6 linked regions of the Homo sapiens genome follow. The protein of the gene in region 1 purifies or fractionates together with the protein of each later gene. This does not show direct contact. Each region holds a gene or a part of one and is shown in the gene's direction. Other genes may lie near its edges.

The links.
Region 2: the proteins of SLC25A21 (region 1) and AMMECR1 purify together in Homo sapiens (affinity purification with mass spectrometry; one large-scale study listed by BioGRID and IntAct). This does not show direct contact.
Region 3: the proteins of SLC25A21 (region 1) and HMGN3 purify together in Homo sapiens (affinity purification with mass spectrometry; one large-scale study listed by BioGRID and IntAct). This does not show direct contact.
Region 4: the proteins of SLC25A21 (region 1) and SLC2A12 purify together in Homo sapiens (co-immunoprecipitation; one large-scale study listed by IntAct). This does not show direct contact.
Region 5: the proteins of SLC25A21 (region 1) and NOSIP purify together in Homo sapiens (affinity purification with mass spectrometry, with the first as the bait; one large-scale study listed by BioGRID). This does not show direct contact.
Region 6: the proteins of SLC25A21 (region 1) and BLVRA purify together in Homo sapiens (affinity purification with mass spectrometry; one large-scale study listed by BioGRID and IntAct). This does not show direct contact.

The regions. Positions count from the first base shown.
Region 1 is NC_000014.9:36,678,613-36,683,509, reverse strand, and holds part of SLC25A21 (mitochondrial 2-oxodicarboxylate carrier), read left to right. Parts: intron 1-2,790; coding exon 2,791-2,852; 3' UTR 2,853-4,897. UniProt on the Homo sapiens protein: Transports dicarboxylates across the inner membranes of mitochondria by a counter-exchange mechanism.
Region 2 is NC_000023.11:110,258,580-110,263,476, reverse strand, and holds part of AMMECR1 (nuclear protein AMMECR1), read left to right. Parts: intron 1-4,897.
Region 3 is NC_000006.12:79,230,991-79,236,687, reverse strand, and holds the start of HMGN3 (high mobility group nucleosome-binding domain-containing protein 3), read left to right. Parts: upstream 1-2,005; 5' UTR 2,006-2,127; coding exon 2,128-2,142; exon of another isoform or gene 2,143-2,626; intron 2,627-2,760; exon of another isoform or gene 2,761-3,014; intron 3,015-5,697. UniProt on the Homo sapiens protein: Binds to nucleosomes, regulating chromatin structure and consequently, chromatin-dependent processes such as transcription, DNA replication and DNA repair.
Region 4 is NC_000006.12:133,990,353-133,995,021, reverse strand, and holds part of SLC2A12 (solute carrier family 2, facilitated glucose transporter member 12), read left to right. Parts: intron 1-3,713; coding exon 3,714-3,867; 3' UTR 3,868-4,669. UniProt on the Homo sapiens protein: Insulin-independent facilitative glucose transporter.
Region 5 is NC_000019.10:49,559,520-49,564,416, reverse strand, and holds part of NOSIP (nitric oxide synthase-interacting protein), read left to right. Parts: intron 1-126; exon of another isoform or gene 127-260; coding exon of another isoform or gene 261-262; intron 263-3,724; coding exon of another isoform or gene 3,725-3,725; coding exon 3,726-3,795; intron 3,796-4,377; coding exon 4,378-4,483; intron 4,484-4,512; exon of another isoform or gene 4,513-4,897. UniProt on the Homo sapiens protein: E3 ubiquitin-protein ligase that is essential for proper development of the forebrain, the eye, and the face. Catalyzes monoubiquitination of serine/threonine-protein phosphatase 2A (PP2A) catalytic subunit PPP2CA/PPP2CB.
Region 6 is NC_000007.14:43,756,490-43,761,971, forward strand, and holds the start of BLVRA (biliverdin reductase A), read left to right. Parts: upstream 1-2,190; 5' UTR 2,191-2,245; intron 2,246-3,527; exon of another isoform or gene 3,528-3,621; intron 3,622-5,482. UniProt on the Homo sapiens protein: Reduces the gamma-methene bridge of the open tetrapyrrole, biliverdin IXalpha, to bilirubin with the concomitant oxidation of a NADH or NADPH cofactor. Does not reduce bilirubin IXbeta.

The DNA.
Region 1 (4,897 bases):
GGAGGCTTTTCACTGAGTGAGGGACCAGCCCAGTCAAACGTTTCCTCGTGCTCCTAATTCATTCTTGCTCCTGCCTCAACTTCATTTCAAAAAAAGAAAAGGAGGACAGCTTGCCTCCATGAACAGCAAAGCCACTCATCTTTACAGTCACCTCTGGGGAGTGGTGACACCGTAACTAGCTGCTTACCTCTCCTGGGCTTTGTCAGCATGACGCTGGAGGCTTCTGGCTCAGGGCCTCACTTCAGGACGCCTACCCACAAAAAAACCGGCTGCCATTCCCACAGGGAGAATCGGCTGCCTCTATGTAAATAGATAAGAAAATAACTTCTGCAGACTCAACCGCCAGGGCAAATAGTCTCAGATTATAAGCAACCTTGTGAATAAGTACAAAAGTATACTCTAGACCACACATATATTTTTTTTATCAGGCTACACTCACCTACTTATACATACTGGTAATATTTCCTAGAACCTTCTCCTACACCTCCCCTCTCTCCCTTTGCAGTTCCTCCCTTTTAACACTATTGTCCTCCTACCCTGCTACACAAACACACATGCACATTCACCTTTAGATCTCAGCCCAATGAACCAACATTTCTATTAATCTAAGATAGAGAACAAGAGTCTGTAAATTGAAGCTGGTGAACAGCTCACACTTTCATATATTTAGGAAACACTTCCACAATTCCCAACCCATCTATCCCAATCTTTATAGGCCTTTACACATGGATTTTGTTTCATATTTGGGATTCAGACCTACCTTCCGTTAGTTATTGGCCCATGTGTAAAAGCTAACGCAGTAATAGAACGTGGGGAATTTTGTGCATCTCTGCCAGTATGTGGTGTTTTTCCTTCACCGCAGAGTAAAAACCTGCTAGTAGACCTAATATGAGAGGAAATCACAGCACCAGCCCTCAACCAACATTCTCAGAAAGGGATGGGCCTAAAAAGGGTGATGACAAGGGAGAGGTTAGCTAAAATGGTAATTGACTGGAACCTTCATCCAAAACTCTTAAATAATCTGACCCCAAGTTTTGTTAGAGGCTTGCAAATGTTTGGCTGGCTTTTTAAATGTTTTGCGTGAGAGGTCCTGAGTTGCTGTGGTGTTAGACTCAAAGAAAAGGGTTCTTGTGAACTGACTGTCCAGGCTAAGCCAAACTGTGAATATCTGGGAACCACTCACAGACCTGCCCTCCACTTCATTCCAAATGTGTGCATCCCAGCGACTTCAAAGCAAAGAAACCTAGAAAGAAAGGTACCACTGAGTTAAAGATTAAGACTTTTGAATGAAGGGTGAAATTTTTTTCTTTAAAGAATGAGAGAGAGAGAAAAAAAAAAAGAATGAGAGAGAGACAGTAAAAAAAAGAAAAGAAAGGTGAGCCTGGAATTTTTGTTCTTTGTTCTGGAGAAGCATCCAGCATTTTTACAATAGCCTTAGCAGCTCAATGTGGCTAACAATCAGGTACCTTCCATGAAAGAATCTTGAAGTCTGTGATTTAAACCTCAACTGTTACTAGGCCAAAAACTAACCCAACTCTGCATATTCTTGTCTTACATTGTGAATGATTAGTAAGAATAAATGCAGCGATTACCTACACATTAATGACCCTCTGTAGTGCAGCTCTTTTTGTTTGCCAGAGTTCCAAGAGGCCTAGAGAAGCTAAGAGGGACTAATAGAGTATCTTCATGGGTTAAAAATGAAAATTACAGGCAGATAATTATCTTTGGTATATGGTTACACAAACATGTGCAGCCTATAGATTAAAAAAAAAAGTATATGGCAGTGTGTTCAAAATAACTAAGACCCAAATCAAGTTCTATTTCTTTCCATCAGAAGTCAATCTTCTATTTCATGCAGCCAAGTCTTCTCTAAGTTGTGTTCAGGATATTTGTCCAAATTTTGATTTTGTGATGTTTTTCACACAGTTAGACATAAAAGGATAAAAAGAGATTATCCTGAAGGGCACAGGACACATGCTATTTACTGCATCAAATAGAACATAAAATGATCCATGTACAAATGCTTCTCCCAGTGGCTAGGTATTCAGCAGCCTCAGTGCCTGCTTTTCTGTATCACATTCCTGTTGACATAATACAGAGCATGTCTCTTCACAGCCAGTTATGTAGCTCTTTTCTTCCAAGACAAATGGTGGTCTCATGCCATCCAACCCCCACTACCAAATTTTCAAGTTCAAATCCATATACAACTGAAGCAGATAAAAGGAATGAAGGTTAGCTTTCAACCTCCTTTTGTTAGGTTTTGCAATGCAGATTTTTTAAATATTCAGAATCTAATTTCCACGTAGCAATGCAGTTTGAAAGCTATGACAGAAAACTAGACTCATCCATCAAGCACCATCTTAGAGATTTTCTTCTTGAATGCAATTAAGACTGCTAATTACGGACTGAAAAAGATAAATCCTTTATCTACACATGAAGAATCTGAAGGTTTCTGTTCACAGGAAAGCCACATGCCCTTACATGACTAAATATGCCTATATTTATTTACTTTTAAAAATTGAAAGTGCTTGAAAAAGAATCTGATGACAAATGATGAAAGTTGCAAAAACTCATGGGGAAAAATGTATTTGGAGACTCAAGATGGTCTTGATTTTATCCTGAGAATTTTCCACAGTAGTTTATATCTTGGTATTGAAGCTCCAGAACTGTTGATTCCGAACAGCCTCTGCCTGACAGGCTGTGCGAGACATCATGGATTCAGAAACCCAGTGGGAAAGCCAGTGCTATTCCAGAGGATTTGCAATAAAAAACAGCTCTTTTCTTTTCTAGGTGGTGCAGTGATGCTGCTGGTTTATGAATACACCTATTCATGGCTTCAAGAGAACTGGTGATTGCCTATGAAGTGTTTTTCCCCCTTGAGATAATGGATATTTGCTATGCAGCACCATGAAGAAGAGAGACTATCGATCGGCCAGGTGTATAATTATGAAGGAGAAAACTGTTCAAGAACAAAATCTATTTTAATACTTTAAAAAATGTCTATAGGCAACTTGAGATTATAGTTTTGGCTGTATAAATAAAACTGTGAGAAGAAAAAAATAATATGAAACAATGAGGTATTTAAAGTGAATATAGAAAAATAGCATAGAAATCATATATTTATTTCATAAAATAAATAGAAACTTTGTCTCCTGTGTTCCTCTTCAATGCTTCACAATGAAAATTCATTGTATTGATCAGCATTTTTCCTAAGAGGTCTAGAAATGCTTAAACTATTGAAAATAAATCAAATTATTCAAAGACTGGATTAAAAAAAAGTTAAGCCAAAATTTAAGCAGTTTTTATAATGAATTAAATTATTCCATAAATAATATTTAAAGAGCACAAGAAAAATTTTTTAAAGTGCACTAAAATGACCTTTTAAGAATGTTTAATTTTATGAATACTATGTTAAAATGTAAATCTGTTGGTTTTTTTTAGTAACTATGCACATATCAGCTCTATTTTCCTACATCTACTTTATATCTCATATTGCTGTAAGATAATAAATAGGTATTTTAAAACATTGTTTAAAACAGAATGTTAAAACACTGTTGTTTAAGCATGTTTAAATCAAGGTATTCCAAATCTCTTCTAACACAAGTAGGAAACATGAAATAAAATTTACTTTCCTCCACATAGTTCTCTTTGAAGATAAGTTTTGTTGATGAGATATTGTCATGTTAAATCACAAATTGGAAACACCTTTGGACCCATTTGTCAGCCATCAGTATTTGCATCCAAATACCTTTATTCAGCATGCCTACCTGTGCCATTTTTAGGAAGAATGTATAGAACAGAACTGCATTTTCAGGTTATTAGTTTTAAACGACAACTTCAGGTGGGAAGTCAGCTGTCTGCAGTATTAAAATATGTATGATGAAGGGGAAATGTTCTGAAAAAGAAATACACTTAGCATTTCTAAGGATTACTATACTAACATGTATCAACAAAAATATCTCCTTGGTCTTGATGTAACCAAACTTGATTTTATATCTGCATCCAGAGATGATGCTGATTCAGTAAAGTCAACAAGAATAACTGAAAGTCCATATGACACCTGTCCTAAGTTACTACCGTGGGCTATTTCTACTACGGGGCTATTTCACTAAAGCATTTTGAAAATAAAAAGTAAAAGATAACATGGTAATTATTACTTTTTATTAATTTAGAGCATTTGAAGTATAAAAATAAAAGGCTTTTGACATACTGTATATACATACATAGCCTTCTGTTGTACATCCTTTCCAACGTGTTTTTTAAAATTTATATTTCAGTCCAATATTCAATAAAAGGGTCATTAAAAACAAAACAAAATTGTGAAAAAAAAGAAATAAGAATGTGTCTCTGTTGCACAACTGCATTCTATCCTTGCAGGTAATATTCTTACATCCAATGAGAGCGCTGCCTGCATAGAGGTCATGAAATTGAACCTTTAACCTCTCCATGTGGATCAGATAGAAAAGGATTTCTGAAGAGTGCATTTGCCAGTTTAAAAGCAACACTTTTACCATCTATGAGATAGAGGAAATATGTCAACATTAACCAATAATAATCTTTAAAAGTTAACCCTTTAATCCATCCTATTTTCCTTCTCGTATTTTAAAAAGTGGCTTTAAATCATAATTTTCTTTGAATAGCAAATTGTATCTGATATCTTTTAAAAATTACTCCATGTGAATTCACTGTTAAGACCTAGAGGGAGAAAAGGAAACTTCAATACCATTAATATTAGATTTTTTAAAATACAAGAACCAGAAAAAAATTATAAATAGCACAATAACAAGAGATTTCTTAATTTAGATAAAGAAAATAACATTATTTGCATTTCCACACAAGCAAGTAATATTTTTTAAAGCCCCCTAACAGCCACCTAAAAACATTTGATAAAGAATAG
Region 2 (4,897 bases), on another chromosome or scaffold:
CTGAGTTTGGTATTCTCATATTTGAAGGTATGCAGTAGCTCACAGCTGCAGGGTTTTCTCAGCTTACAGTGAAGCCCAGAAAAAAAACCAATGGCTTGGGGGATCATATTCATTTTTTAGCTTTTCACAGGTATAAGAAACTGGGTGTTTGGATTTGATTAAATAACATACAGGCTGTAAGGGTTGAAACACATATTCTGGAAATAAATTCAACTTGTTAAAGATAATATAAGTACTAGTCTAGGCATGTTAGATTTTTTTTTTCTGACATAAAATACAATGGGCTCATTTTTGGGACTTCAGCAAATTCTGCCAATGGCTACCTTTTTGGGACAGGTACATATTAAATTACACATTTAATACTAATCAATGGCAATTTATTGTACATTTCCCAAAATAAGTTGTTATGAGGAACACTGGTTCCTTTGCGCTACCTGAAGAAAAGAATTCTGTGACCAAATAAGTTTGGGAAACACTGGTTAAAAAATGTAAACAACTCTGCTCACTGTAGGACTTCTCAGAACCTTTTATGTTAATAGTGTTATGTATATCTAAGAGAGAGAAATAGAATGTAGCATTTTCCAGGCTTATTTGACTACAGGACCCTTTTATCCTCCCACCCCAAAGTCTGAGTGTTCCAAGGAAAACATTTTTGGAAACACAAGTCTGTTTTCAAAACAGAATATTACTTTATATTTGGGTAGTAAGAGTTGGTATTATAGAAACCCTTTGTGCTTTCTAGTGAAATTGTAGCAGAAATCCCATTATCAAACATTATATACCTTAGAAATCTTTCGTAGTGGTCATTGTGGTAGCAATTGGGTTTTGTTTAAAGAAAAAAATAAATTCTTTTGCCAATGTTGGCAAGGGGTGAAAACATCCAACTTTTCTGGACTTGTCCATTTATATCCTAGGGTAATGACCAGAAGAATTACAGTATAATTTTCTGACAATAATGTGATTCTGAATGAATTGTTCAAATACTTGAAGTTGGAAATTTGCCTACATTTGTATACCTTGTTACCCTCATTGCAATCTATAGCTCTTCCTGTTTACTTTTCATCTTTTTTCTCATGTTTCTATACAGCTTCCTCAAATTGTATATATCACATTAAAGAGGCGTGTGTGTGTGCGTGTGTATACATATGTTTGTGTGTGTATACACACATGCACATACCTGGTTTTACTTCTCATTTTTGTTTGGCTTAATTTCTTTTGTATAACAAGATATTAACAATCATACTATTTGGAAAAGATGAACAAAAGAAAACAAGTCTTACAAAATACAATTAATCTTTTTTCCTGGATTCATTTTAGCATCAAAAGTTGTAAGGAGTCATTTTTAAAAGTTGGAATATAATATTTTTCTGTTCAGTAGTGTGCTTATCATTTTTACGTATTATGTTATTATGATTATTTTTGTTAATGGCTGCCATTTATTAAGAATTTACTATGTCAGACATTGTTGAGGAGCTTTACATGCATAGTCCTTGTAATAACCCTTAGGTACTAATATCTACATTTTCAAAATGAGGAAACTGAGAATTAGGTAATTTAAATAATTTACCCACTCACACATCTATTAAGTGATAGAACCAGGATTCAAACCCAGAGCATGTGTCTACAAAATCCATCCCCTAACCGAGGCAAAATTTTCTGATTATTTATGTTTTGCAGCTTTGTCATGAAAATAATGAACTTGAAAGCAAGTTACTATAAATTTTATAAATCATAGATCAGTAATCCTTCAAAAATTCTAGTTAGGAGTTAAGACTGAAATTTTGCAACAGGAAAATCCATAGATATTATTATGGAAAGTATACAACTCAGAGTTGTATAGAGCAGACAGAAGAAAATTGACTTGAACTAATATTGTATTAAGGATAAAGCTTATTACAAAACAATACTACTGTAGGATAGGAAATTGTATTCTTTGGCTACATGGACTAGACTTTAAGAATACAATTTTTTTTGAACATAAAAATTGGTGATTCTTGGCTTCTGGTCATCCCACCTTAAAAACCCATAACTCACAAAATGAATAAATAGAATTAAATGAACTTAGGGGATAGGGGCATAAAGGAGGGAGAAAGCAAAACAAAAAACAAAATAAAACAAAACAAAAAATAAGCAGTGAAATTAAAGGCATTCTAGGTATAGGCATCTTTTTAAAAATTCAAATATCCGGTTCATCTGTGATTAGATAGACTATTGTTTGATTTTCAGAATGTTACTCAATTATATCTCTTCTTTTTTTTTATTGTGGGGAAATATATGTAACATAAAATTTACCATTTTAACCATTTTTAAATGTATAGTCCTGTGGCCTTAAGCGCAATCATGTTGTTGTACAGTCATCACCACCATCCATCTCCAGAACGTTTTTCATCTTCCCCAACTGAAACTCTACCCATTAAACATGAACTCCACATTCTTCCTCCTCCAGGCCCTGGCAACCACCATTCTACTTTGCGTTGCTATGAATTTGACTACTCTAGGTACCTCGTATCAGTGGAATCATATGATATTTGTCATTTTGTGACTAGCTTATTTCACTTAGCATAATGTCTTCAAGGTTCATCCATGTGGTAGCGTGTGTCAATTTACCTTCTTTTTAAGGCAGAATATATTCCATTGTATGTATATACCACATTCTGTTTATCCTTTCATCCATTGGTGGACGTTTGGGTGGGTGGCTTCTACCTTTTGGCTGTTGTGAATAATGCTGCGATGAACATAGGTGCACAAAATATCTGTTTGAGTACCCTTTTTCCTCTTAAAAGTGAACCAGTTTATAGAAGACAATGATCTAGCTTGTGTGTAGTCCCTTAACTCTAAAACCTTTCTTAAAAATATGACCAGATATTTTTTAAAATGAAATGCCTATCCTGAATTAAGTTTTTATTTATAAATAAAATTATAAACTTTTAATTTTAATAAAATTATTTAAACTTTTAGAATTAAAGTACTTGTCATAGTCAAGTTGTATGTTCAAATATGACCGGGTATTTTTTAAATGAAATGCCTATCCTGAATTAAGTTTTTTAAATATATATATAAACATAATCTTTTAAATGTAAAGTACTTGTCAAAGTCAAGTCATATGTTCTCCTAATTGAAATTTTGATTTTAGATTGAAATAAAATCTTATAAAGAGGCTGAGGATTTCTTCTCAATTGTGAAAATACATAGTATTTGTGTAGGTAATGAAAAGTTTATGAGAAGTACATGGAACTATTATAAATAGACTATTCTTTGTCTGACCTTGAAGGATCTGGGTAAAAGCAGGAAAGATTATAGAAAATACGAAGCAGGATGGAGAGCTCAGAATTATTGATAAAAGTCTATCCATAGAATTTGGTGATAAAGTCCACAAATTACCCTATTTATCATTGCTCAAGACTTCAAAGTAGAAATATTCTTTGTCCGAGCTGAAGGAGATAATTTCCAGTATTGTGTTTATGGCTTTTATATATTAGAAAGCAGAGGCAGATTCATTTCCCCAATTTTAGTACTTAGAAAACATACTTTTATAGAGAGGAAAATTACCACTAATATAGATGAATATAAACATCTCAGTCAAAAAAGATTCCTGGCCGGGCGCGGTGGCTCACGCCTGTAATCCCAGTAATCCCAGGCCAGCGGATCACGAGGTCAGGAGATCGAGACCATCCTGGCTAACACGGTGAAACTCCGTCTCTACTAAAAATACAAAAAATTAGCCGGGCGTGGTGGCGGGTGCCTGTAGTCCCAGCTACTCGGGAGGCTGAGGCAGGAGAATGGCATGAACCCGGGAGGCAGAGCTTGCAGTGAGCCAAGATTGCGCCACTGCACTCCAGCCTGGGTGACAGAGCGAGACTCCATCTCTTAAAAAAAAAAAAAAAAGAAAAAGAAAGTTTCCTTAAAATTTTGGCTAATAAATTTCCCAGCAAAATGCAGATCTATTTCTTTATGTAAATTCAAGTTGGCAGTAATTTTTCTAGAACACATTAAGTAATTAATAGATGTATTCTTATTCAGCAAAACAGGATTGTGGTCTGTCACCACACTTAAAAGACTATCTTTTTTTCTCCTTTGTTGTACTTAGACCTCTCGGCAGTGAAATAATTATGCAGGTGCTGGCAGTTCTAGAACTTGATTGTGAACTATGCCACTTTTGTTGAACTACTTAATTCTAAGAAATTAGCAATGAAAGTTTAGCCCTTTCTAGGGAACAGTATGACCACATAAAAGGTGATGTGCTGTGTTTTGTTTTGGAGTTTTATTTTGTTCTGTGTGGGTTAGTGGGGTTGTGTGTCAGGGGAGTTTGAGGGGGGATTGATTGCTTGCATGGTACAAATATTCACTTTCCATTAGATTTTTTGAGATACTGAAAATAGCTAACAAACCTACTTTATTACTTTCAAAGGTCCTAGCTAGATTGGGTACTTATGGGATTCATTGTAAACTGAATTTGCTTTTATATTTTGGTGTTGTAATCTGGCATTTTTCTAAAGCAGTATGAGTTTAAAGCCATTATAAGCAGCATAATATTTTCCCTGTCATAGTAGACCATCGTGTGATCATTTTTATTCTTGATTATTTGGGTAACCACTCTAGGCTCATTGTGAACACTTAGATTAAACAAGTTCCTCCTCCCTCTCATTTAATATTAGTCTTTATGGTAGCATCACCCAGATTGATTTTTCTTATGAAAAGAAAAGCTGTATGAATCACCTCTGACTGTACATTATTGTTATGGAAGCTCATTCTGGAGATGTTAAGGCCAAACAATTTTTGGCAAGTGGTTGTGGCAAGACTTCTGGCTAAAGTATGCATTTTGGGGAAATAAATTAGATGTATCACAAACAATGCAAAATTAATTAGTTTAATTTACAACCTACATTTTTTGCCTTTT
Region 3 (5,697 bases), on another chromosome or scaffold:
TGAGTTATTTTTCATCACAGAGGAGAAATATTCACCTTAGCACTACCTTTGTTGTGGCACCTTTCCATCTCCATGAAGAAAAATAGCCATCCAGTCCAGATTGCAAGTGCTACTCAGTATCCTTCTCACACATATCTTACTAAAAATGTTTTCACTGACTTTTTCTTTATTTAACTATCAAGTATTTGGCAAATTAATATCTTGAAAGACATCTTCATTATAAATATTATTTTAATGATAAAATTATTAACTTGTAAATTTTTATCTAGCTCTAAGCAATTGGTTTTTATCTTAATTCGTTTCAGTATACTATTGTCATTCACTGAATGCCCAAGAACAGGGAATCTATCAAAAATGATTAAGATCATGTCAAAAGGACACAAGCACTAATTTGAAAGGGTATGCATTGGCTAAAGATGTGGTAATAGGAGCATTAAAAAGGTAATAATAATGATAGCAATACACTGATGCACACCAAATATGTAAAAATCCATGAGTTCATAAAGATGTTCCAAAAAAGAAAGTAATCAACCACCTCTGGAGAGTACTAGATCAATTAATGTATTCTGAAAATTACTAAAGAAAAAGTGAAATATTAAACTTCATTGCTTTTTTAATACATATTTAATACATGATATTTTTAATACATATTTGCAGCCTCTGTGTTACCAAAGTGGATTTGGCCATATTTGTAATGTAAGGCTTCAACACATTTTCCTATGATGTGAGCTTTGCCTGCTAAGATGATTCTGAAACTAACTTTGCCCAATTTTGCTTTTTCTATAATTTCATATGAATGCAATCATTCAGTGTGGTCTTTTGTATTTGACTTCTTTCGTACAGCACTTTGTTTTTGATATTCATCCATGTAGGAAAATTTTTTATTGTTTTTTATTGCTGAATAGTATTCCACTGCATGTGCTCATCACAATTTGCTTACCCATTCACTAGCGCTTTTCCTGCATCTGCTGAAAGGATTGTTTTTCCCCCTTTATTCTATTAATCCTGCCAATTACATTGATTGATTCTCAGATATTAAAAAAGCAGCTTTGCATTCCCAAGATAAGCCCCACAGGTCATGATGTATTGTCCCTTTAAATGTTGTTGAGTTTCATTTACTAAAATTTTGTTCACGACTTTTGTGTCTATGTTTATGAGTGATATTGGTCTGTAACTCTCTTTTGAAGTCTTTCACTGGTTTTGGTATCAGAGTAAATCTGGTCTCATAAAATGAATTCAGAAATATTTTTGCAATGCTCATTTTATGCCTTGCAGAACTTTGAGAAATATTACGCATAAAGTGTAACATGACGGGTGTCATTCAAATATATGTCTCAAATATAAAATAATCAGTTTTTGCCTTGTTCTTTCTTTTCCTAATTTCCGTAACAAACATGTCCTATTCGTCTTCACATCTAGTTTGAAGTTAGCTGAATTAGTGAGTGATTTATAATCACAGATTTCAGAAAATTAGAGCTAAGTGATTTTAGGGACTGTTGTCACTATATATCTAGGGGGGGAAACTGAGGCCTTTAGAAGTTGCCACGCTCTTCCAGTACAGAGTACCTTCCCACGCTTTACAGATTCCCACCATGTAACATTCATTAAAAGCCTTTATGGGTAGGAAATGAATAAGGTACCTGCTGTGTATATATTTACATTATAAAGTTTACGTATTCATTCTTACTCTTTTTCCTTCCTATGAAGACACACACTGTTCTTATTCTTACAATCTCAAAGAGAGAGCAGCGAAACAATGAAACTTCAGGATTGTGTGGCCTGGAGGCTACTAGTTGAACTGGGCATGCTCAGTCGCCAGGCAGATTTTTTTCGGTGAAGTGGAAACTACAACAGCGCGTACCGCGCGCGGAGGTGGGCGTGCCCTCGTGGAATTTAGAACGTTGCCTCAGCCAATGGGGCCTCGCGGCCGGCTGGCGGGGCTCCTCATTGGAGCAGCAGGGAGGCGAGCAGAGGGCCCCCAGAGGGAGCCGCGGAGGTGCAGGTCGAAGAGGCCGGGCTACGTCGTGCCCTGCGCGTGAGCAGCTGCAGAGGCAGAGGCAGCATCCAGCGGCGGCGCCAGCAGTTCCAGTCCGTTGCTTTACTTTTTGCTTCACCGACATAGTCATTATGCCGAAGAGAAAGGTAAGTCTTACCAAAAAAAGATTTCAAAAGCCTTCAAATTCTGCTTACAGTAAATGCTGGCATTGCAATGGCTCGCGCAGAACGCGCGCGGTAGTAACCCGGGGATTGGGAATCTTTGCTCCTCCACGCTTGTTTTTAGATGCCTGTTGCAGACGTTCCTCTCTCTGTCCCCCCTACCCACTCCGTCCTCATCGATCTCTTAATGTTACTTTCTCTCCAGTGACGCGGTTTCCCTTCTTTTTGAACTCATTCTCGCTGGAATGTTTTCCACCCCCAACAACAAGAAGCAAAAGCGGCTTTCCATTCCGAAAGGGAGTTTCCTCTTTGCAAACTGCCAGGTTGCGAATTAGTGTGAAGGGAAAACAGCGAGAGGAGAAAAACAAGTACAAGCGTAAGGAGAGGGAAGAAAATAAATCAGGCAAATGTTGGGATTATTCCCATGCGGCTGTACTCGCGGGCTGGGTGCGCTGCGGTGGCTCCTAGGCTAAGGGAAAGAGAAAGCCATGTTTAAAATAGCGCTCACCCTCCTGCTCGCCTCCGCTGCAGACCCGTATGTACCAACTCCAGTGTCAATCAGGGCTGGGGCCGGCGAGGCGGGGCCTGGCGGCCTGGACCTACCCGCAGTTCGGGGCGGGAGCGGTGGAGTTGGCAGCGTGGAAGACGGGACGGCGCCGGGGCGTCCAATATGGCTCGTCCAAGGTCAGGGGGCCACCAGGTCCTCCCCAGCGACTGGAACCCACACTCGGTTGGGGAAGGCGGGGTCCGCGCGCTATCCGCCCCTCTGCGCGTCTAGCGAACTGGAGTCATTTTTGTCTTGTCTTCCGCCCCTTGCGGACTGTCCTCTTCTGCGCAGGCCCCGGACACCAACTACTACATTCAGGGACACAAATCTCCCTCGGGGTGGGGCTTCGACTTGTCCCGGGGAGGGAAGGGAAAGGTTTCCTCCTCCCTGAGAAATCAGTGAGGATTTCTCAGCTGGTTCCTAAGCAAGTGCTTTGCACCCTCCCACCGCCAGCCTCAGTGTTTCCAACAGTGTCAACGAGTGTGGGTATTAAATTTGAAGCAAAATTACACCTAATGTCTTGCTTTATCAAAGACCATGGACTAATTTGTGTGTGAGAGTGACTGCATTATTTTAAAATACTGAAGTTTTAAAAATTCAAAAGCTTTCCCCTTCTTATATGTTATTACTAAAAATTGGGTAGAAACTTGTCTCCTACCCCACTTTTTAAAAATAATTGAAAGTGTTTAAAAGTCTTAGAGTTTGTTGTGCACATACTGTGTCCCTCACGCTGTGCAGAATTTGACTTGCATTATCTCATTTAATCCTGAAAACAGCTTGAGCGGTGTTACCCCCATTCAGCTGGGACTTAAAGACATAAATTGTCCTGCATCTCACCAACCAATAACTACTAGTAAAGATTTAATCAGATGCTATAGATGCCAAAGTCTTATTCTCACCCATTTCGTACTCACTTACGAAAGGGTGGGTCAAGAGGAATTAAGGAAATCCAAAGGTACTCCCAGTTTAAGAAGACAGATGGCATATTAAGAGCACTAATACTTGAGATTTATTATTTAAACTTAATTTTATGAAGGTATTTTCTAGCCCTGTTTTACTAGAATTAGGATATTAAGTGATGTCACCATTTTCAGCATTTTGACTGAGGGTTAATGATGGATTGGAAATTCTAGTAGAGACAAAGGAACTAATCATCAAGATACGGGTTACAGAGTAAGTGAGCTGGAGGCCATCTTTTTTTCCTGGGAATTATAACCATTGTTTACATAAACAGTAGGTTAGGTGTGCACACTTTATGTATAATGGACCCTGACGATGGAACCCTTCCTTGCTGTTTATTCAAGGGCCAGAGCTGCTGAAACCATTATTCTTACTTCCCCTGTCTGCCTCTCTCAAGGAGACGGAAGGAAAAAAAAAAAAAACTAAAATAACAGTAAAATTACAGCTACAGTTTTATTTCCCTGGAAGGCAGGGAACCCCCATGCATAAGCTAGCCAATGGTCCTGAGACTAGGGGCAAAACTGTGTACAGGCACCTGTGTGTCATTCCTGAGGACATCAGAGTGTTCTCCGGTGATGGAAAACCTCTCCTTGATTAATAGGAAGGCTTTCCATTTATACCTGAAGCCTAACGACCTCAGTTGGTACCTGGGCAGGAACAACCTCAGATTAAACACGGCGATCATGGCCATCCATCTATCAGTCAAGTCTTAGAGCAGCCTCATGGAATCCTGAAGTTCACTGGAACTTATGTGAGGAACCACTGTCATTAGGTAAAGCCTGCTTAGATACAAAAAAGAACTGGAGACAATCCATGCATAGCTCTTCAAGATCTTCAAAGCTGGGGTAACTGCCAAAGCATTTACATACTACACAATATTTTTCTTGACTAAAGAATTGTCTGCTCTACAATATAATAAGCTTTTAAAATGTCCCCCTAGTACTTTTTTGCCTTCTTAGCCCCCTGTATCAACCTTTCCTAGAAATCAAGAAATGTTATTTAATGAACATCTGAGTAAGTTGTTCTGCAGAGCAAGAAGTGGTACAGATAAAGTCAATGAAAACATCTGGAATCCTAGCCCTGTTGTAATGCTGTAGGGACATACAGTTTTTGCCCTCTTGGAACTTGTGTTTAATTCAATGAGGTGATAAGACTAGCAGCACAAAACAGTTGAATAACATTAAAACTGTGTATGTGTTCCAGAATGTGTAGTTATAGATCCCACAAGCAGTAGGACAGATAAGGAAAGTTAACTTTAGGCTGGTCTTAAAAGTGTGGGTAGGACTCAAATATACAAAGAAGTCAGAGTCATTTTTTGTTACCAGGTATTCAAGTGTGTCTCCTGATTGTATCTTAACATGACCAGGCCTCAGTTTTGCAACTTCAGGGCTATAATATCATCTGAATTAATATTAAAATGTTCTGATGACATTTCTTTGTAAGTTTTATGTGTATCTTTGTGTGTGATAGTCATAACTACATTAAGCCAAGTGGTTTTTTATAAATGCCATAGTATTTTGTGAAGTAATACAGCACTTAGTGAAGAGTTCTTCAGTGCATATTATCTCTAAGTTTGTGAGATGTAAATAAAAGTGAGTTTCCTGTATTTTTTAGATAATGGATGGTGGGTGAGTGGAATTACAGGGGAAATGATAACATTCATGGACTCAGTGGTGAGACAATGAGTGATTGAGTTCTAGACTGTTCTGGCCAGACATCCACAAATGCCCGCAGTGGTCATGTTGTTATGTGATGATTTGATGTTCTACGAAGAGACATGAGCCAGCGAGGCCTAGAGTCACAGTCCTGGCATGATTAGCGACAGGAAACACATTTTTACCTCTTTCTTTTTATTAATATTTTCCAGTTCCTTATCACTAGAACTATTTTAAATGTCTAGTGTATCACATCAGAAATTCTCTAATGAGGCAATTTTCCATGAATGTGGCATGTAAGCAGTCATGTCTCTTGACACTTAAAGGTTTAAGGAAGGAAAGCCCATCTGCCTCTAGCTTTGAAACTCAAAATTAGGT
Region 4 (4,669 bases), on another chromosome or scaffold:
TTAACATCCCAATTACCTCCATGTTGGTTAACTCTGTGGTCAATTCTCACTCCTCATCTTAGATTATCCCCAGCATTTGACTGGAGATAGTGCTCTTGGCTGGGGATAGTCCTTCCTGAAATGCTTGCCTCACATCCTTCTGCGACCCGTCCCCTGGTTATCTCTTACCTATGGTCTCTATTCCTCTGCTTCCTCTCTTAAAGTTGGTGTGCCCTGGGGCTTAGTCCCCTGACCACTTCTCTATCACCCTCACCAGCCAGTTGATCTCAGTCAATGTTAGTTTCTTTTTTGTTTGTTTGTTTGAGATGGAGTCTCGCTCTGTCGCCCAGGTTGGAGTGCCATCTCGGCTCAATGCAAGCTCTGCCTCCCAGGTTCACGCCATTCTCCTGCCTCAGCCTCCCGAGTAGCTGGGACTACAGGTGCCCGCCACCACGCCTGGCTAATTTTTTTGTATTTTTAGTAGAGACGGGGTTTCACCATGTTAGCCAGGATGGTCTCGATCTCCTGACCTCGTGATCCACCCACCTCGGCCTCCTAAAGTGCTGGGATTACAGGCGTGAGCCACCGCGTCCAGCCAGTTTTACAGTTTTTATCTCATTGATATGCCAGGGTCTGAAATTTATGTCTCTAGCTATCTCTCTAGAATTCAAGGCTTGTTTATTCAACTGCTTACTCTACATGTCTTTCCAAATGTCTAACAGATACCTAATACCTCACATGCCCTAAATTGAACCTGTGATGTTCTCAAACCTATTCTACTCACTGCCTTACCCACCTCAGTTGATGTCAATGTTATCCGACTACTTTGGCCACAAACTTTGGAGTCTTTCCTCTTTCTCACATACTCCACATTCAGTCTATCAGGAAGTTGTGTTGGCTCTTACTTCAAAATATATCCAGAGCCTGAACACCTTCACGGCTGCCCTGGTCTGAGTCACCATGATCTCCATCCTGAATTACTGCAATACCCACTTACTGGTCCCCATTTCTGCCTTTGTCCCCTCCCATCAGTTCTCTACACAGTGGCCAGAATGACCCCTTAAAATGCAATCAAGGTATTCTTTTGCTCCAATCCTCCAGTGGCTCTCCAGCAAGAGCAGAAGCCTTCCAATGCCCTTCCAGCCCTGCACAGCCTGCTAATCTCCCCTTCTTCTCTCACAGCCACACAGGCCAGAGGCTGCATCCCAGACACATCAAGCATGCTCAAGGCTCCAGATCGTGGCACTTGTTTTCTCTGCCTCGAATTCTCTTATCCTAGATATCCACCTGTCTTGCTGCTTCACCTCCAACAGACTTTTCCTGTCCCTCTATTTCAAATCCCAATTGTGTAGCCAACTCTGCACCCACTTTCCAATCCTTCAGTTTTAACCAAAGCAGAAACACTACATTTTACTTGGTCTACTGTCTATCTCTTCCTGCTATATTTAAATTCCATGAAGCCAGGGAATTTTGTTCACTGTTGTTTCCCAACACTTGGAACAATTCCTTGGCATATAATCGAAGCTCGGCATTGAATAGATGAAAAAACATGAATGAAATGGATACAAGAATAAGGTAATGAAGTAGTCAGGATGACACTGCAAGTTTTAGCTGAGAAACTGGACAGATGGTGAGATGCAGAAGCCTGAGAGAGGACTAGGTTTCAGGGCTCAGGACAGAATAGAGCTCGGATTTGGAGATATTGTGAGATGTCCATTAGACATCAAATAGACACATTAGTAGTAGGCAGTTGGATACGTAAGTCTGAAATTTGGAGACTCTAGGGGTTAGAGTCAAATGTGGGTGGCCATCAGCTTATAAGTGGTATTTAAGTCCTGAAGCCAGATAAGCTTATCTGGTCAGAGAACAGAGAGAGAAGGGACTAGGCCCAGTTTTGTGCCAAACTTAGAGACCGAGCAAAGAAGAGAGTGTTAAAAGGGACTGAAAAGAAGCCAACAGTGAGGCTGGAGGAAAGCCAGAAGTGTTGTAGGAAGGTGGGACTGGAGAGGCCAAGCACAAAGACAGATGTAAGCACAGGCTCAGCGGAATGAGAGGACAGAAGCTGACTGATGTGGTTGGAGGACAAAATGGAAGTGAAGTGAAGAAGCAACAGTCCACTCCTTACATCAATTTTGCTGTGAAGGGGAACAGAAAAGCAGGATGGTCATGCCCTAGACTCATTTCCAATCACTGCTTCATTCACAAGCATTCCACTCACCCTCTAACCACTCATCTCTCCAGCCCACTTCCTCAAGTACTGGCACTTCAACAAGTCTTCAGCCCCACGACGACCTGGAGGCCCATGCTCTCCCTTCCTTCCTTACCCTGCTTCCTACTTTCCATGGCCCACCAAGGCCACTTCTTCGCATTTCCCCTTCTCCCTTTACTCTCTTCTCTCTCCCTCCATCACTCAGGCAAACCTTAACTCTGACCAAGTCAACTCTTAGTTTATTTTAACCCTGCATTCAAGGAGCTAAACCTGGCTGAATCAAACACACAACTATGCTGATAAGCCTTGTTTTCACCTTATGAACATACATCTCAAGTAGATCTTGAGGAATACCCTGCAATATACCACATTTCCCTGGTGAGTTGACGTTCCTACTTTCGAAGATGATTACTTCACACCAATACTTTTCCCAAGCCTCCAGGACCCCCTCCCACTTCTTCACTCTAATTATTTTGCTTTTTAGTTCACTGAGAAAATAAATTGAGACCACCTTGTCCTCCTGCCACAAGATCTTCTAACCTACCTACATCTATGCCCACACACACTGCCTTGTTGCAAAGGCCAATGCTTCCATTTGTACACTGACTGCATCAATTTCCCCCTCCTATGGGATTATCATCACGCACACACGCACAAAGCTGCAGTATTTCCCATCCTGAAAAAATACCTTCCTCAGATTTCCCTCCAGATACCAACCGTTTCCCTGCCCCAACTTCTCAGGTCTCTGGGATTCTCTGCAGGAGTTCCCTCCCTAACTTCATTCCATTTTCTGATCATTGTCACTGCTTTAGAGAGATGCCACCTGTATAATACAGTCTGTCCTCTCCCACCCAACTAAACCCTTTTTTCTCCTTCCCCGTTTATTTCTCATTTGCACTTTTACTACTTCAAGTTATAAGCTCGTCTCCCCTCTAAAATCTAAGTAAGCTCCTTGAAAACAGAAGTCTTTATCTACTCAACCCATACTACCTACATATTGTGGCCACTCAAATCATTGGTTAAATTACAGAAAAAGGTATTTGAAAAGGGAGGTTCAAAGGCAGCTCTTCATTTTTAGTAAAGGTAAAATACAATAGCATCTTTTTATGCTGATGGGAAGAATCCTGTAGAAAAATTTGTTAATGCAGGAGTAAGGGATAACGTAGAAGATAGAAGAGATATAAATATAGGCACATTGCTGGAGTTTGAGAAATGGAAAAAAATAAGGTCTGGGATGAAACCTCCACTGGTTCTCTGTATGTAATACTATCCTTGGAATCCTTCCCCACAGAGCTGACTGCTGGGATTGTATTCTGAGAAGACACCGTTACCCCTTGCATGAGATTGACCAAAGTCTGTGGCATACTGAATTTCATGATGCAGCAGGATTCCTAATAAAAATGTGTATTTATTTTTGCATAGCTAAAACATTAAAGCCCCAGGGTGGTTTAAAAAATAATAGCCTACACATTTTTTTCATGTAAACTAAGAATGACATTTTCATTAGTGCCTCTTTCTCTTTCAGGAACTATGTGAAAAACAACATTTGTTTTATGAGTCATCACCAAGAAGAATTAGTGCCAAAACAGCCTCAAAAAAGAAAACCCCAGGAGCAGCTCTTGGAGTGTAACAAGCTGTGTGGTAGGGGCCAATCCAGGCAGCTTTCTCCAGAGACCTAATGGCCTCAACACCTTCTGAACGTGGATAGTGCCAGAACACTTAGGAGGGTGTCTTTGGACCAATGCATAGTTGCGACTCCTGTGCTCTCTTTTCAGTGTCATGGAACTGGTTTTGAAGAGACACTCTGAAATGATAAAGACAGCCTTTAATCCCCCTCCTCCCCAGAAGGAACCTCAAAAGGTAGATGAGGTACAAGGTCCTAAGTGATCTCTTTTTCTGAGCAGGATATCAGGTTAAAAAAAAAAAGTTACTGGCTGGTTTAATACTTTCTACCTTCTTCACAGAGCAGCCTTTGAATAGACTATGTCCTAGTGAAGACATCAACCTCCGCCTTAAGCTATGTATGTATGGAGGCCAGTCGCAGCTTTATTATGCAGACACACAAGTGGTCTGGACATGAGGGTACAGTTTCTGCCTACCAAGACACTACTTGCACTGGATCTTACGCAAAAAAGAACCAGAACACACAGTGTGGACAACTGCCCATATATTCTATCTAGATTAGGAGAGGGTCCTGGCTAGGATTTTAGTGGTAATTCCTAGTTACATTCAACAAGTATAAAGATTATAGAGCTTATTTTATGAACTATAAACTATAATTTAATGCAAAATATCCTTTTATGAATTTCATGTTAATATTGTGAAATATTAAAATAATTCCACAATAGTTGAGAAAAATGAGCATTTTTTTCCATTTTTAAAAAATGCATAGAAAAGACAATTTTAAAATCCTGGGACCATATTTATTTAGAAGTAGCTGTTAGTAAAACATTAGAAAAGGAGTCAGGCCATTAGGTTATT
Region 5 (4,897 bases), on another chromosome or scaffold:
CGTGGCGTGATCTTGGCTCACTGCAACCTCCGCCTCCCAGGTTCAAGCGATTCTCATGCCTCAGCCTCCCCAGTAGCTGGGATTACAGGCGCACACCACCACGACCAGCTAACTTTTTGTATTTTTAGTACAGATGGGGTTTTGCCATGTTGGCCAGGCTGGACTTGAACTCCTGACCTCAAGTGATCTGCCCGCTTCAGCCTCCAAAGTGCTGGGATTACAGGTGTAAGCCACGGTGCTCGGCCTTCAGTGAAGTTTTAATGTGCGTTTCCCTGGTGACTATATTAGTTTCCTATCATTGTTGTAACAAATTACTACTAATTTAGTGTTGCAGTGTCACACCTCATGGAGCCTCTGGTGTACTTGTGAGAGAATGAGAATCAGAAAGGCAAATAATGTCTTAGTATTATTAAGACAACAGTTTTGACCTTGCAGACTGTCTAGAAATGTGTTGGGGGACCACAGGGTCCTAGGACCCACACTTTGAGAACCACTGATCTAGAAGAGTATTGGACTCTTATAGCCTAGGAACAATGGGAAATGTTTAAAAGGATTTCCTATCCATATTTTTTATTTCTTGCAGAGACATATAACAGGGTGATCACTAAAGCAAGTATTTTCAGGCTGGGCACAGTGGCTCACACCTGTAATCCCAGCACTTTGGGAGGCCGAGGCGGGTGGATCACCTGAGGTCAGGAGTTCAAGGCCAGCCTAGCCAATATGGTAAAACCCTGTTTCTACTAAAAATACAAAAAATTAGCTGGGTATGGTGGCATGCACCTGTAATCCCAGCTACTTAGGAGGCTGAGGCAGGAGAATTGCTTGAACCCAAGAGGCGGAGGTTGTAGTGAGCTGAGATCGTGCCATTGCACTCCAGCTTGGGCAACAAGAGCAAAACTCGATCTCAAAAAAAAAAAAAAGAATTTTCAAGCACAAAAGATATGATGTGCCAGGTGCAGTGGCTCACACCTGTAATCCCAACACTTTGGGAGGCCAGGAGTTCACTTGAGTCCAGGAGTTCAAGGCCAACCTGGGCAACATGGCAAAACCCCATCTCTACTAAAAATATAAAAATTAGCTGGGCGTGGTGGCACATGCCTGTAGTCCCAGCTACTCGAGAGGCTGAGGCAGGAGAATCACTTGAGCCCAGGAGGTCAAGGCTGCAGTGAGCTGTGATTGTACCACTGCACTCCAGCCTGGACAACAGAGTGAGTCCCTGTCTCAAAAAAAAAAACAAAAAGAAAAAACGATGTTAGATTAAAAATGGGTGGCAGAGAGGGAAGTGGAACGGAAATACAAGTTCAAAGAGAAAAACAGGACATGTATAATTTTCTGCTGTTGAAACAGCTTTTTCTTGCATTTTTCAAATGGTCTCAAATTATTACAGTATTTAGATTCCATCAGCTACACATTTACGTTGCTGGAAATTGTATCCTTTGCAACTGTTTAAGCTTGGGAGAATTTTTAGGTGGCAACTTAGAGATGAGTGAGACAAGTATATAATGTTACTAGATCTTCTCTCTTCTCTTCTTTTTCTTTTGACAGAGTCTCTGTCTGTCACCAGGCTGGAGTGTAGTGGTGCAATCTCCACTCCCTGCAACCTGCACCTCCCAGGTTCAATGAGTCTCCTGTTTCAGCCTCCCGAGTAGCTGGGACTACAGGCATGTGCCATCACACCCAGCTAATTTTTGTATTTTTAGTAGAGACAGGGTTTCACCATGTTGGCCAGGATGGTCTCGATCTCTTGATCTCGTGATCCGCCCCCGCCTCGGCTTCCCAAAGTGCTGGGATTACAGGCATCAGCCACTGCACCTGGCCATCAACTTCTTTGTTTTTAAATTTAATAGAGATGGATCTTGCTGTGTTGCCTAGGCTCATCTCCATCTCCTGGGCTCAACAGTCCTCTTGCTTCAGCCTCCCAAAGTTTTGGGATTACAGGCGTGAGCCCTGAGCCTGGCTCTAAATCATTTTAAGGGATAAAAAAGCCTGCAGGGGCCAGGCACAGTGACTCACGCCTGTAATCCCAGCACTTTGGGAGGCTGAGGCAGGTGGATCACCTGAGGTCAGGAGCTCAAGACCAGCCTGGCCAACACGGTGAAACCCCGTCTCTACTAAAAATACAAAAAAATTAGCCAGGCGTGGTGGCAGGCACCTGTAATCCCTGCTATTTGGGAAGCTGAGGCAGGAGAATCGCTTTAACTTGGGAGGCAGAGGTTTCAGTGAGCCAAGATCATGCTATTGCATTCCAGTCTGGGCAACAAGAGTGAAACTCCGTCTCAAAAAACAAACAAACAAACAGGCATGCAGGCTGTTTACTGGCCAAGCAGTCTTGGTGAAAGCTGCCCAGCCTCTGTGGGTTCAGGGCTTCTCCTTTTACAAATGAACTCCAGAAAAGTAGGGGGCTCCCTTCCTCACACCATACACAAAAATTAACTCAAAAAGTAAAAGTTAAAATGATCAAACCCCTAGAAGAAAACATAGGAATAAATGTGCATTATCTTGGCTTAGGCAATGTCTTTTTTTTTTTTTTTTTAATTGTGACAGAGCCTTGCTCTGTCTAGGTTGGAGTGCAGTGGCATGATGTCGGCTCACTGCAACCCCTGCCTCCTGGGCTCAAGTGATTCTCAGTGCCTCAGCCTCCCGAGTAGTTGGGATTACTGGCGTGTGCCACCACGCCCAGCTAATTTTTGTATTTTTAGTAGAGACGGGGTTTCACCATGTTGGCCAGGCTGATCTTGAACTCCTGAACTCAAGTGATCCACCTGACTCAGCCTCCCAAAGTGCTGAGATTACAGGCGTGAGCCACTACACCTGGTCTGAAACCACTTTAAAAGGGTTAATTTTATGGTATGTGAATTGTGTCTCAATAAAGTCATTTAAAAGGGTGGGGGTTGCCCTTAAGTATGGGGAATGATCAAAGGTATCAAAGTAAGGTGGCAAAATGTTGACAGCTGCTGGACCGCAGGACATGGGTACATCATGGGGGTTCCTTATACTATTCTGGTTTTGTATGTGTTTGAAAACTTACAGAATAAAAAAAGCTTTGCTTTTTGAATTGAGCTCCAGGGTTCTGGGGTCTTCTCTTCCTCCTTTACCTGCAGTGGGAGTGGAGGTAGCTCTTCCCCTAGACACAGAGCCCTACTCTGACCTGCCCTCTGATCGGTCGATCTGAGACATAATCACAGCTGCTAGATCCAGTCGCTAGTGGACTGGCAGGCAGCGATTGGGTCAAGCCTTAGCTAAGTGTCAAGCCTTAGCTAAGTGCCCAGCCTTGAGCCAATCACTGGGCTGGTCCACGCCTTGGCCTCAGTCAGAGCTTACAGATATGAGAGGGGAAGGGAAGGTGGAGTGGATTCATCAACAATAGTGGCCCCCTTGGTGTCTTTTTTTTTCCCCTCCATTAAATGGCACAGCCACCACCCTAGCTAATCTGAAGTAGTGGCTAGAATTTGAACTCTGGTCTCTCACCCTCTTACCTCCAAACAAAGAGTTTTGTTGTTAAAGGTGCTATTTTCACATATAAATGAGTCTAGGTGAGTCTGGAAGGAGGACTTCCTGGAGGAGGCCTGGCGACCACATGCCCTCCCTCTCTTCCACCTCACCCCCCTTCTCCGCCTCCGCTTTCCCATCAAGGGGGGCAGATCAGCTCTGAGGGCTGCAGAGGTCTTCCCTGTGCTGCCTGCCTCCGGTAACCACAGTCCTGCCACTGTCCCTTCCTCCCTAGGATGACGCGGCATGGCAAGAACTGCACCGCAGGGGCCGTCTACACCTACCACGAGAAGAAGAAGGACACAGGTGCAGGGCTGGGGTGGGAAGAGGCGGGACATGGCTGTGTCTTGGAGTCACCCTCTCCCCTCGTGCCCCAGGTTTTGCTTCCTCTGTCCCTGTCTCTCTCCCGCCCCCGATATACACTGATGGCCATGACCATGTAAACAACAGCTGGGTGATCCCATGACCCCATGTGGCCCGGCACTGTGTTCTCTGCCTTCTGCGCATGAACTCACTCCTCCCAACAGAGTGTCAGGGAGGGTGCTCTTGTTACCCCATGTTCCAGAGGAAGAAACTGAGGCCCAAAGAGGGACAGGCACTTGAGCTTGGTCACAGTCAGAAGGGTGGAGGGGAGTCAGCCGTCAGCCCCTCCACCAAGCTGCCACTCAGTGACCAGGCCTGTCTGCCTCTCACCCTCCAGGGTTGACAACTCCCTGTGGGTTCAGCCCGTGGCCCCAGCACACAGGCAGCGGCTCCCAACTGCCTGTTTCTCTCTGAGTCCCCCACCCCCACCACCGCGTTGTCTCTGTGCCTCTCTCTGGGGCTTTGGAGACGGACATGTCTCCTGTTGCTCCGCCCCTCCATCACTCTGCCCATCTCTGTCCCCAGCGGCCTCGGGCTATGGGACCCAGAACATTCGACTGAGCCGGGATGCCGTGAAGGACTTCGACTGCTGTTGTCTCTCCCTGCAGCCTTGCCACGATCCTGTTGTCACGTGAGCTGGGAACAGGGATGGGTAGGTCTGGGTGGGGAGAGCAAGGGAACCGCCAGGAGGAGGCTGTGTGCGTGGGTCTGGCCACCTGCACAGCCAGGGAACCCTGGATGAGCAGTTTATCCTCAGAGCCTCTGTATTCTCACATGGGACATGGGCATGATCCTAGCATCTGTTTCATAGTGTGGAACATATGGAAAGGAACATACTTCTAATGGGGTGTAGGGCTCTCAGAGCATTGCCGAGGCCATCGGAGCAGCTCACCTTTGGACACTTCCCATGACCTACCTCTGATGGTAGGGCAAAGGCTTAACAGGTGCTGAGTCCAGGCACTAAATACGTGCTCAATTAGTGGTATATTTTGTAGAAGACAGTAATTAATGATCAGGGCCCCCAAGGCCACCTTCAGGTTTCTTT
Region 6 (5,482 bases), on another chromosome or scaffold:
GTGGGGTTTCTGTCACTTGTGGCCTACAGCAGTCTTACTGTCCCCCCAACCTCCCACAAAGTTCTTCAGGTTGAAGAGAGTCACTACTTTGTAGAATGGGAAGCTCTTACTCAAAAAAGTAGAAACTGAATACAAAACTAGACTTTAGAAGGATAAGATAAATAAATCAATGCATTCATAACACATCATTACAAGAAAGTGAGGGGGTTAGAGGTCTCATCTTTAAATTCTGCTCTCAAGGACATGGAGGGCCCCTCTCACAGGCTTTCCCAAAGCTCCTCTGGGTGTACTGGTCTGACTCAGCAAGTGAACATCTGTGGTTTTGCCTAGCCAGCATCCCTTCTCCTAGCAGCAGCACTCAGCATGTCCTTTTGGGGAATCACTCTTTTCTCTTGTGGTTTATTTAAAGTGACTGCACAATCAGACCCCAGAGTTTGGCTTATGTCCTAGGCCTTGCCAGTGAAAATATGGTACCTCATCAGTGGCAGTTATTTTTCCGAGAAAGGACATATCATGACCCAAGGGGCAGCAGCAGGGAGGGGTGGATGGAAGAGACAGATAACAAACAATAAGCTAAATAAACAAATTCAGTCAGGAGCTAAAGAAATAAGTCATTCAGGAGTGGGGCAGGTGGCAATTTCAAATGGAGTGGTTAGGGTAGTTCTCAATGAGGCAGCATTTGAGAAAATATCAGGAAGAGTGAGAAGTAGTCGAGCATTCCAAACAGACAGGAGCCTGTGCAAAGACCCTGCAGCAGAGCCCTGTCTGCCTTGCATAAGAAATAGCAGGGAGGCCAGAGTGACTGGAGCAGAGTGAGCCAGTGGGGAGGCAGTAGCAGATGAGGTTGTAGGGGTAACAGAGGAGCAGATCAGGCAGGGCTTTGGGTTTTACTCTGAGTTTGGGAAACCACTGGGAAGGTTTTGGGCAGAGGAGGAATTTGATCTGGCTTTCTTTTTTTAAGGTCACTCTGGCTGCTTTATGGGGACAGGCTGCAGGGATATCAGGGAAGAGACCACTGTCATGACCCAGGTAGCAGATGATGGAGGCAGAGGTAAGAAGTGGTCAGGCTCTGGGTATGCTAGGGAGATCCAACCAACAGAATTTTTGGGCCCTGGAGGTGGGATGTGAGAGAAAGGTTTCTGAAACAGCAAGGTTTCTGGCCTTGACAACTGGAAGATGGAGTTGCCATCGAGATGGTGATGCTATGGGGAAGAGATCAGGGGCACAGATTTGGATGTGTTGAGATTGAAATGTATTTTAGAGATCCAAGAGGAGGTATTAAGGAGGCAGCTGGATAGAGGAGTATGGAGTTCAGGAGGCAGGTCCCGCCTGGAGATAAAAATTCAAAGCCAAGCCTTCTCTCTTTGCACTCAACAAAACCTCACTTAAACAGGCTTGTCAGGTCATGGAATACGGTACTAGAACTCTTTGTTGGGGAAAATGCCAGTCAACCTTACCCGTCAGAACGCTGCCTTTAAGATCAGAGATCTCTTTCCTTCAGCCTAATCCACCCCTCTCCCTGTTTTCTCCCCTAGCCCCACTAGGCTAGAAGCTCCCTGGCTTCTCCCACATCAGGATCCCCAACAAACCCATTCCCAGGTGGATAAGAGCCCAGGCAGTTCCCTAGACCACGTTCACTACTTCCTAGCTACCCAAGAGCAGGACATCGCAGACACCGGCCTCCTGGAATATTCCCTCCGCTCCTCACATTTACAGGAAGGACTCAGGTAAGCCTCGGCGCCAGTTCAGTCGGCCCGGGGCCACTAAATACCAATGGGATCCAGTGGGTTCTACGTGGTGAGTGGGGGGCGGATAAGAGAGATGCGACACCCCCCGGGCCTGCCCCCCCCACGCCGGGGCCAGGCACACCGTGAGGGGGCCAGGCACACCGTGAGGGGGCCCAGCCACTTCCATACGCCCTCCGGTCGGCCGGCACCCACCACCCACCCCTCGCCACCAAGCTGGGTGCAGAGAACAGGGCAGGCGCACGGACGGTTCTTACGGCCCCAGGCGCCAGACCCAGGGCACAGAGGCCAGGATCTCACGCGCGACCGCACGAGGCCGGGACCCTCCCTCCCCTTCCGTCCACTCCCTTCCCCACCGCCTCCGGTCCCCTCCCGGTCTCCGCCACCCCGCTTCGGGGCCCCCGCCCCCCAGCCGGGCAGCCAATCGGAGCTGGGATCCCGCCCCGGTCCGCAAAGCCGGTGGCGCCCGGAGGCTGCACGGAGAGCGGTGCCCGCGTCAGGTGAGGCGCGCGCGGGGAACGGGGGTCGCGCGCAGGGGAGCGGGGGTCGCGCGCGGCTTCCATAGAGCGCTAGGGCCTGAGCTCGAAGCCCCAGGCCCGCAGGAGGCCCGGGCCCGCGGCCGCCAGAGCCGGGACGCAGCCTGGGCGCCGCCTGCCCCGCCCCGCCCCGCCCGGGCCCGGAGTGAGGACGCGGTCGGAGGCCCAGCAGCGCGGGTCCCGGCAAGGGGCTTTCTCAACTACACAAAAGACAGTCTAAAAAATTAAGTCTCCATTTCGGTTAAGACTGCCCGTAGTTTCGGTTTTTATGTAGACCCAAGAGGGCAGGCTCGGCGTCCGCGTGCCGCGTAGTCCGGCGGCTCCAGGAGCGCGAGCGGCTGGGCCCGGGCGTAGCCACCGCAGGGCCGCTAGCTCGGCCGGGACCCGCCTGGGATGCCCTGGGGTCTGCTCCGCTGGGGCGAATCCTGAGGCGCCACGCGAGGCACTTGGCCTCTCCTAGCCCCGCTTTCGTTTTTGGAAACTGGAAACTATCACTTATTTCGTAGACGGTGTGAGGGTTACATGACAGTGTTCTGTAAAGTGCACTCTACATATGAAGTGCTCAGAAATATGGCTAATAATGAGGGTATTTATAAACTACTTAAATTATAAAAAGAATGAGACATCAGACTTACAGTTTTGGATACTAATTTTTTTCACTTAACGTTCATTATGTGATAGGAGTTTTCCATCCTATTATACCGCTGTGCGATCTGATCTTGGGCACGTTAACCAACCTCTTGTTGCCTCGATTTTCTCACCTGTAAAAGTGGGGGTAATCATAATGCTTACTTAGTAGGATAGCCCTGAAGAATAAGTGACTTAGCGAACATAAATAGCTTACAATAGGGTTTTCAGCATGGGAAGGATTCAGTAAATGTTAGCTGTCATCATCACCACCTACAAAGGAAGCAATACTGTGCTGAAAGTTTTTCCATCATTAATGTAATTTCTATAGTACGATTCCCAAGAAGATATTAAAATTATGGAAATAAAGGTATTGGTATATTCCTAATTATTTCCTAAAAGATTGTATTGATAAATATGCTCATCCTTCCCTTAACGGGATGCATTCCAGAAAAACAAGTCAAATGTTAGACAAAGTATCAGAAGGGAAATTCTGTAGCCAGAGAGCTAAAAATTACAATAGGGTCTCTAATTATACTTCAACTTTTTTAGGAATAATTCTCAGTGTGTTTTCCCACATTTCATATGTAATTTTTTTTTTTTTTTTTTTTTGAGACAGAGCCTCGCCCTGTCACCAGGCTGGAGTACAGTGGCGCGATCTCGGCTCACTGCAACTTCCACCTGCTGGGTTCAAGCAATTCTTCTGACCTCAGGTGATCCACCCGCCTCGGCCTCCCAAAGTGCTGGGATTATAACAGGCGTGGCATGAGTCACCGCGCCCGGCCGATCTTTACTTTTTTATTCTTTGTACCCCCTGCCTATCCAGTTAGCATGTGATTAAAGTCAAAGATTTGCCACTTTGGGCCACATCTATTAATTTTCATCTTTGTTATAATTGTATTTAGTTTTTGATCTACACTGCTTATTACTCCCAGTCATTTTTTCTAGAACTGAAAATCTGGTAAAATACTCAAAATTGCACTGACTTCTATGTAGAGGCGACACTCCATCAGAACCGTGGGCTGACAGGGAATCCCACTGTGCAGGAGCTGCGCGCATTTTCATTTCTGATTCTCTTTGGCGTATCCAGGACTCTGATGACATGATCATATATTTATCAGTAGTAACAGGTTGGGCCATTTGTTTTTTGTGGTAAATCATATATTTAAGATTTTAGAAATAAGTTGATAGCCATGTATTTTGGAATTTGAAAAAGACATTGCATTACTCAGCTTCAAATTAAGCTTTAATCAAATAGTGAAACTTTCCATTAATGGACAGTGTATACCTTTTTGTGTATTTAAAAAAAAAAACACTGAATATAGTGCCTTTGTGACAGGGGAGCTTAGTTCCTGACAATGTCCTCTTGAGTCTTTTTTTTTTTTTTTTGAGATGGAGTCTCACTGTGTCGCCCAGGCTGGAGTGCAGTGGCGCCATCTTGGCTCACTGCAACCTCCGCCCCCTGGGTTCAAGTGATTCTCATTCCTCAGCTTCCTAAGTAGCTGGGATTACAGGCACGCACCACCATGACCAGCTAATTTTTATACTTTTAGTAGAGACAGGGTTTTGCCATGTTGGCTAGGTTGGTCTCGAACTCCTGACCTCAAGTAATCCACCCACCATGGCCTCCCCAAAGTGCTGGGATTACAGGCGTGAGCCATTTCACCCGGCCTCTCTTCCGTCTTTGAGCTGTGAGGAAATAGCTACATTACATGAGCTGCTAGATCTGCCTTATGGTCAGAAATGAAGGTTGAACTCTCAGGAACAGTGACATATATACACACTGATATTTCCAAAGTACAATGCCCCAAATTGATCCACAAAGGAATTAAGGTCATTTGCAACAAAATCACAGAATAGTAACAAATAAATAGAAGATAAATATGGCCAGGAATTGAGATGAGAGAAAGTATAAGTACAAGAAACTATTCCAGGGGAAAAAAAGAATGAAGTGTTTCAGTGTTATCCAATAGAATTTTCTGTGATTATGAAAATGTGCTATATTTAATTAATTTATATTCCAATAGCCACTCTGTGTAGCGGCTCCCTTATAGGTCATTGCAGGCCTATATTTTTGTAGTTGAGTCCCAAATTTGTTTCTAGAAAGGTAAACTTGGTCAGTTACATGGTTCTTGTCTTTTGAAAGTAAAACATACATGGCAACTTCATTCATTCATTCATTCATTGATCCCCCAAATGTTAATGGCCTTGAAGGAAGCAGAGCCTTTCCTGATTCTCAGTTATAGGGAAAATTTTCTGTGGACTTCATTATCAGAGCACCTTGATATGTTATTGCCCTGTGAAAGTCTGTTCAGTTTGGGGCTAGGAGGGATGCAGTCAGTGAAAGTGGCATAGTTTGTAATGTTTTTTAGAGTTTTGAATAATTATGTTAACTAATCTTTATAGAAAAGTTTAAAGTGTACAGAGAAGCAAAAAGAAAGTAGTCACTAAAAGTTTCACCACTTAGAGACATAATTACTGGTAATATTTTGATGTATATATTTCCAGACTTGTGTCCCATGTAGCTATTATATTTTTCTCAATAGATCCCAAAGTATCCAACTCCCTCCAGGG